2 linked regions of the Homo sapiens genome follow. The protein of the gene in region 2 interacts with the protein of the main gene of each other region in a biochemical or structural test. Each region holds a gene or a part of one and is shown on either strand. Other genes may lie near its edges.

Evidence for each region. Proteins that work in one complex are often made in the same cells at the same time.
Region 1: of the proteins of USP28 (region 2) and ATXN3L, one has a biochemical effect on the other in vitro, tested with the Homo sapiens proteins (one large-scale study listed by BioGRID).

Annotation. Positions count from the first base shown.
Region 1 is NC_000023.11:13,318,147-13,321,272, forward strand, and holds ATXN3L (ataxin-3-like protein), read right to left. Parts: upstream 1,908-3,126; 5' UTR 1,789-1,907; coding exon 721-1,788; 3' UTR 501-720; downstream 1-500. UniProt on the Homo sapiens protein: Deubiquitinating enzyme that cleaves both 'Lys-48'-linked and 'Lys-63'-linked poly-ubiquitin chains (in vitro). Acts as a deubiquitinating enzyme for the transcription factor KLF5, playing a role in the regulation of KLF5 stability.
Region 2 is NC_000011.10:113,809,573-113,813,072, forward strand, and holds part of USP28 (ubiquitin carboxyl-terminal hydrolase 28), read right to left. Parts: intron 2,933-3,500; coding exon 2,704-2,932; intron 1-2,703. UniProt on the Homo sapiens protein: Deubiquitinase involved in DNA damage response checkpoint and MYC proto-oncogene stability. Involved in DNA damage induced apoptosis by specifically deubiquitinating proteins of the DNA damage pathway such as CLSPN.

The sequences.
Region 1 (3,126 bases), on a different chromosome or scaffold from region 2:
GGTTGGGCCACTGCAGTCCAGACTGGGCGACAGAGCGTCTTTGCCCCCATCACCCCACCCCCAAACAAAGAAAGAGTAATGCACCAGAGTCATGAAATAATGATCTTACCACAGAGGGCGTAAAAAACAAAACCTCAGAAAATATTACCATATTTCGAAAGACTTGTGGAAAATAATTAAGGACCAGGTAGCAGAAATTGTGATCAGAGGAAATAACATAAGAATATACTTAAGCGCACAGTACATAGTTGGAGGGAGAACTGTTTATCCTTCTAAAACCGTTACTATGATCAACACAGACAAGAGACACTTCCCTGAAAGGTTAAATTGTTTCATGAGAAATAAAAGCAACCAAAATGAGCCACATTATCTACAATAGAAGAGACTATATGGAAAAAGTTCTATGGCAAGAGCTAATTCGTTGGTATACAAAAAGATCCATGAAAAATGACCCAATTTTAGACACATTAGATATTGCAGGCTCAAAAATCAAAGGAACATTTTGAAAGCTAATTTAAATTTAATTAATTGCTGAATGTCTCCTTGGCTAGTAGTTGAACGATCATTATTTAGTCCCACATCTCTCTCGTCATTTTGTTTGCAAACTGTCTAAAAGCCTTATTTCCTCATCTCTTTGACAGATGACCAAAATGGATCCTACAGTATAATCACACAGGATAATGTTGGAAAGTATGACTATCTAAATTATTTTTAAAGGCATTATTTTTCCCCTTTGATTTTCAAATTCTTTCTCATAATTTCTAAAATGGTGTCGACAGCGGCCTGTACTGTGCCTTCACTGATGTCATCACTGAGATCACTCTCAATTGCTCTCGAACTTGTTGTTGGCCTTTCGTGTAGGTATGAACTGTGGCCCGGCAGATCTGACTGTTGTTGCTGCTGCTTCTGTTCCTGCTGATGCTTTTCAAAATAGTCTTCTTTTATTTTCTTCGGCTGTTCTGAAGCAGGAGTTACACATGATGTCTTTGGAAGATCTTGCGATGTGTTTCCGGAACTACCTTGCATGCTTAACTCAATAGTACTGCGGAGATGTTCATCTTCTCTATTGGTTTCTTGGCGGCTTAGTTCAAGGGCCCTCTGAAAATCCTCCTCATCTTGGTCTGATGTTCCAGACTCATCACTTTCTTCTGATACTTTTTCAAGGACTGTTTTATAGACTCTATGCTCTTTTTGTTTTACTAATTTTTTTCCATTAAGTTTTGGTGTATCCATCTCTTCGACACTGATGATCTGCAGGAGTTGGTCAGCTTCACAGTCTGGCAGATCACCCTTGACAACAAATACAGAATATGCTTGTTGTTGTAATCGAGCCAAGAAATTTGCAAGGCATGTATCTGATATTAATTCTGGACCCGCCAAGAGAGAATTCAAGTTAAACCAGTGTTTTCCAAATTTTCTAATAGTAAACCAGTGTTGTTTATAATTACATATAAAAGATCTTTCATTTATAGGATCAATGCCGAGCTTCTGATATTCAGGATTATTGAAATGGATGATCTCTAAACCCCAGAACTTCAAGGCATTGCTTATTACCTGAATGGAGAAGAAACCGGTATCATCCATGTTTTCTGAAGGCTGCTGTAAAAATGCAAGATACTCTTCACTGGTGACTCCTCCTTCTGCCATTCTCATCCTCTCTTCTTCATCTAGCTGATGTGCAATTGAGGCTAATTCCACAGGGCTAAAATATTCTCCTTGCAATAGATTGTTCAGACAGTGCTGAGCACACAGGAAACCTTCCTGTTTCTCATGAAAGATGAAATCCATGTTAATTGTATCCGTGAGTTTCTGTAGGTATGCCGGAAGATGTTGTATGCCCAGCTATGGCAGTTACCTGGGCAGTTTGTGGATAGCCATGTAACAGATGTTAGGTTTTCAAACCTTATGAAGACCATGGGTTTTTGCAGGTATTCAGGTAAGAGATGGTATGTCACAAAGCACTATTGTGACCAAGGTGGTTTTGCCAGTATCCAGTCAAAAGCTGATGGTAAACCTAAAGTGAATATGGGATTTTGGAGTTATCCCATAGATGATAATGGTGACTTGCACCATAGTAGTGCCCGTTGGAATTTCAGATGTCCTATAAAAATAATGTCTCTCTAATTATGCTTGTCAGCATGGTTTTAGTAAGTAAATAAAGGTGAAATTTACCACAGCACTAAACAGAAGATTTGGCAGGTAACTGGGAGAGAAATAACATGGGCTTTAACCGAATGGACACCATGGGATTTTGGAACTGTCTGGCTAAGTTATCATGATGTCACTGACCACAATAATAGCCATAGAATTTTGTAGGTTCCAGTCAATAGATGACAATAAAACTCACAGTGGCAATGAAGATGGGACTTTGCTGGTATCCTAGTTAGAGATTATGTGGACCTGAAAAACATGAGTGACCAAATGATCTTCAGACATCTAGAAAACTGATGATGATGTCCTGAACTCTTTTCTTATCCATGTGTTTTTACAGGTGTTCAGGTAAGAAATGTATGTGCCTAACAAAAGTAGTAACCATTAGATTTTACTGTTTTCTAGTTCAGAGACAATCTTTCTCAAACTTAGTAGTGACAAAGATATTAGCAGGTATCCGGGTAAGATATCACAGAGTTCCTCACCACAGTAGTAACTATGGGATTTTTGCAGGAGTCCAGTGAACAGACAGTGTGTGAAACTACTATGTTGACCTTGGACTTCTCTTGAGTGTCCAAGTACACTTAGTGGTTGCCCTAATGATTATAGTGAGTGTATGCATGGAATTATCAGGGGTCCAGATGGAAGGACATGTATCCTGACCAGGGTTGCCACCATATGTTTTCTCAGCAGGTAGTCAAGAGATGATGGTGTCTCTAACTACAACATTGGCCTCAGAACCTTAAGATTCAGGTAGAGTTCATGGTTCCCCTAACAATACTAGTCACCATGGGATTTTTTGAGGTGCGTATAGAAGATGTATCCCTAACCACTACTGCTGCCATATGGTTTTGCAAGCTCCTATCAAGAGATAATGGTGAAACTCATATTAGTCATTTTTGTAGGAATTTCATGGAATCTAGCTAAGTGATTATGTGGACCTTAAACACAGTACAGACCATCTGCTCTTCAGAC
Region 2 (3,500 bases):
GCTCATAAAGTTTTGTGGATTTTGGAGCATTTGGGATTTTGGATATTCACATGTGGGATGCTCAACCTGTATGGACAATGTAAGGGCAACAATTGATAACAGTGCCTGACATTTAGTAGGCACTCATTAAACATCTGCTAAGTGAATGAATAACACAGAGTTAAAGATATGGAAAGTGGGCCGGGTGCAGTGGCTCACGCCTGTAATCCCAGCACTTTGGGAGGCCAAGGCAGGCCAATCACTTGAGGTAGGAGTTCAAGACCAGCCTGGCCAACATGGTGAAACCCTGTCTCTACTAAAAAAAATACAAAAATTAGTCAAGCGTGGTGGCGCATGCCTGTAATCCCAGCTACTTAGAAGGCTGAAGTGGGAGAATCGCTTGAACCTGGGAGGAGGAGGTTGCAGTAAGCTGAGGTTGCGCCACTGCGCTCCAGCCTGGGAGACAGAGTGAGACTCCATCTCAAAAAAAAAAAAAAAAAAAAAAAGATTTGGAAACTGGTCACTGTCAATCACTGGATATACCAATCATTTCAGGGAAATTCAGAAAATCATTAGAGCCAATAAAAATTTCAAGATAAACAGTTTTATCCATTTAACCACTGCATTTGGCGGATAAGAATGTCCATTTCAAAAAGGTTAGAGATGAATTTCAAGACATTTATACCACCAACTTTCATACAATTCAGTACTATGAGAAAGCAATTTGATACAATGGTGAAATGGTCAATAATACCTGGCTTTAATGGCAAGGATATCAATGACATATAAAATTTCATTTTCTAACCCTGTGACCAAAACAAACAAAAAAAGTCTATAGCAGATTAACACATTCACTTACTGGTTGCCATTAATCAGCCTTTTCACTAAGCAAATGACAGTTTCCACTTGTTTGTTTCTATAATAGAAAAATAAACCATGCATGCAATAACAAGGCTCCTATATATTAACAACAGCTAGTACATTCAAGCAGCTATTCATTCCTTCGCAGCATAAATATACAATTGTGAAGATTACTTACTGTTCATTTATCATTCTCTCCATTCCCTAATCCCCAACCACACTAGCAAATCAGAAAGATAACGTGCTGCCTGGACAGAACACCTTACATGTTTGTTTTTTTTGAGACAAAGTCTCACTCTGTTGCCCAGGCTGGGTGCAGTGGCACGATCTCAGCTCACTGCAACCTTTGCCTCCCAGGTTCAAGCAATTCTCCTGCCTCAGCCTCCCAAGTAGGTGGGATTACAGGTGTGTGCCACCATGCCCAGCTAATTTATGTATTTTTAGTAGACACAGGGTTTTACCATGTTGGCCAGGTTGGTCTTCAACTCCTGGCCTCAAGTGATCCGCCCGCCTTGGCCTCCCAAAGTGCTGGGATTACAGGCGTGAACCACCATGCCGGGGCGATGTTTCCTTACTTACGCCACACAGTAAAGTTTGAATACTACAGGCAAAAGCTTTCTACTATCTTACTTATAAAATGTTCATCATAAGACCTCTCATAGAGGATGTGAAAGAAAGAGAGAATAATGTAAATTGAAAACACCACAGAATTTGGAGAATTGTATTTGAATCTTGGGACTGCCATTTATTGACTATGTGATTACTCAACTTTAGAACCCTTTGGAATCTGTTATCCAGCTGGAAAATGAAGATGACAACATTTTCAAACTCTTTCCCTCCTTTTCACAGCTGTAAGTTCTTAGAGAAATAAAAGTTTGAAAGCATGCTTTAAGAAGTAAAGTACCAATATAAATGATAATTATTATTGCTCTCTGTATGAGTAGTAGTATTACAACAACTGTGAAACTATTCAGGCAAATACACCTGTAAAATTTAGTTATTCTGGGCCCCACAACTGTAATCCCAGCACTTTGAGAGGCCGAAGCAGGCAGATCACCTGAGGTGAGGAGTTCAAAAACACCCTGGCCAAGATGGTGAAACACCGTTTCTACTAAAAATACAAAAATCAGCTGGGCATGGTGGTGGGCACCTGTAATTCCAGCTGCTTGCGAGAGTGAGGCAGGAGAATCACTTCAACCTGGCAGGCGGAGGTTGCAGTGAGCTGAGATTGCGCCACTGCACTCCAGCCTGGGCGACAAAGCAAGACTATGTCTCAAAAAAAAAAGAAAGAAAAAATTTAGTTATTCTCCAAAGGGTGCAAAAATATATGTACTATCAGCACCATAAGATGGGGCAAGAAAAAAAAAAGATGTCACTAAAAACAACAACAACTAGAGAATTAGTCTATCTACGAGTAAATTTTAAAAATACGTATATTCCACACAATGAATTACTATATAGTTGTTAAACAGTTAAGATTCTTTTACTAAAAATATAGAGATTGCTAAATACTCGATTAATGAAAAAGGTTCAGAGTTGAATGGAAAAATAATCTACTTGGGGAAAAGGGGGAGGGGAAGATACAGATAAATAGAATCTAGCATATGTATACAATGTGTCTTGAAGACTACATAAGAAACCTAACATTGTGTACTTGTTGGGAGTGGGACCCATGGTCAAGGAAGAAAGTAGTAAAGCAAACTTGTTTTTCCTTTTCATTTCCTTTTATACTGTCTATATTTTTTAAATCTATTATTATATAATAGTAAGTTGTAAATTTTTTAAAAAGCAGTACAAGACTGTTCTTCTCCCTGAGCAGTACAGATTTTCCCCAATCTATAGATTCTGCCAAGATACTTTTACCTGCATTGAAGTAGGGTAGTTTGTCATTAATGTACATCAGACAGTAAGCACTAACATTTCTCAGGCCTCCATAGGAATCTCTTTCAACTTCTTCCCAGGAAGATTCAGTAACAGAGATGTCATTGTACTTGAGCCAGCTCTGTCGGGGTTGATTATAGATATAGGCCCAATAGTGTCCAGCATTTGCTTGTCCTTCATGAACAAGAACTGCATGCAAGCGATAAGGCACCTGTAAGTCAGAATGTACATTCCCCAGTCAGGTGAAGCAAAGTAATCTGATAAAGTTTAGGTTATTAAGAAATTACTGTTTATGATGTGATTAATGTGGGGTTCATATTAAAACATCTTGTTGATTCAAGATGAAGTCCACAAAAACACAGCCTTGGAATTGATCAATTATGTCTCAGTTCCAAAACCTTGAAAACCAGATCGCTGAACTACATGACCTCTCTGAAGACTCTTTCAACTCTAAACTCCTCAGATCTAAAACCAAACATAACCTAAACATATGCATCCTTCTAATTCAAAACTCTGTTTATCTAAAAATAGAATCACCTTGACCACTCATGCTGAAAATGCTTAGCATATTTGGGACCTACAAAGGTTAGCAGCTATTTTGTTCCATGCCTATTTTATTTGGCAACAAAATTTAAGTTAACATATTTAATTCAGCCACATGCTTCTTAGAGTTAAGTGACCACTTATCTATCTGGAGTGAAGACCCTTTTAATGACATACTTGTTTGTTACAACATTTGAAAAGCACATTTGTGTATTTTCAATATAGAGAAAATAGAG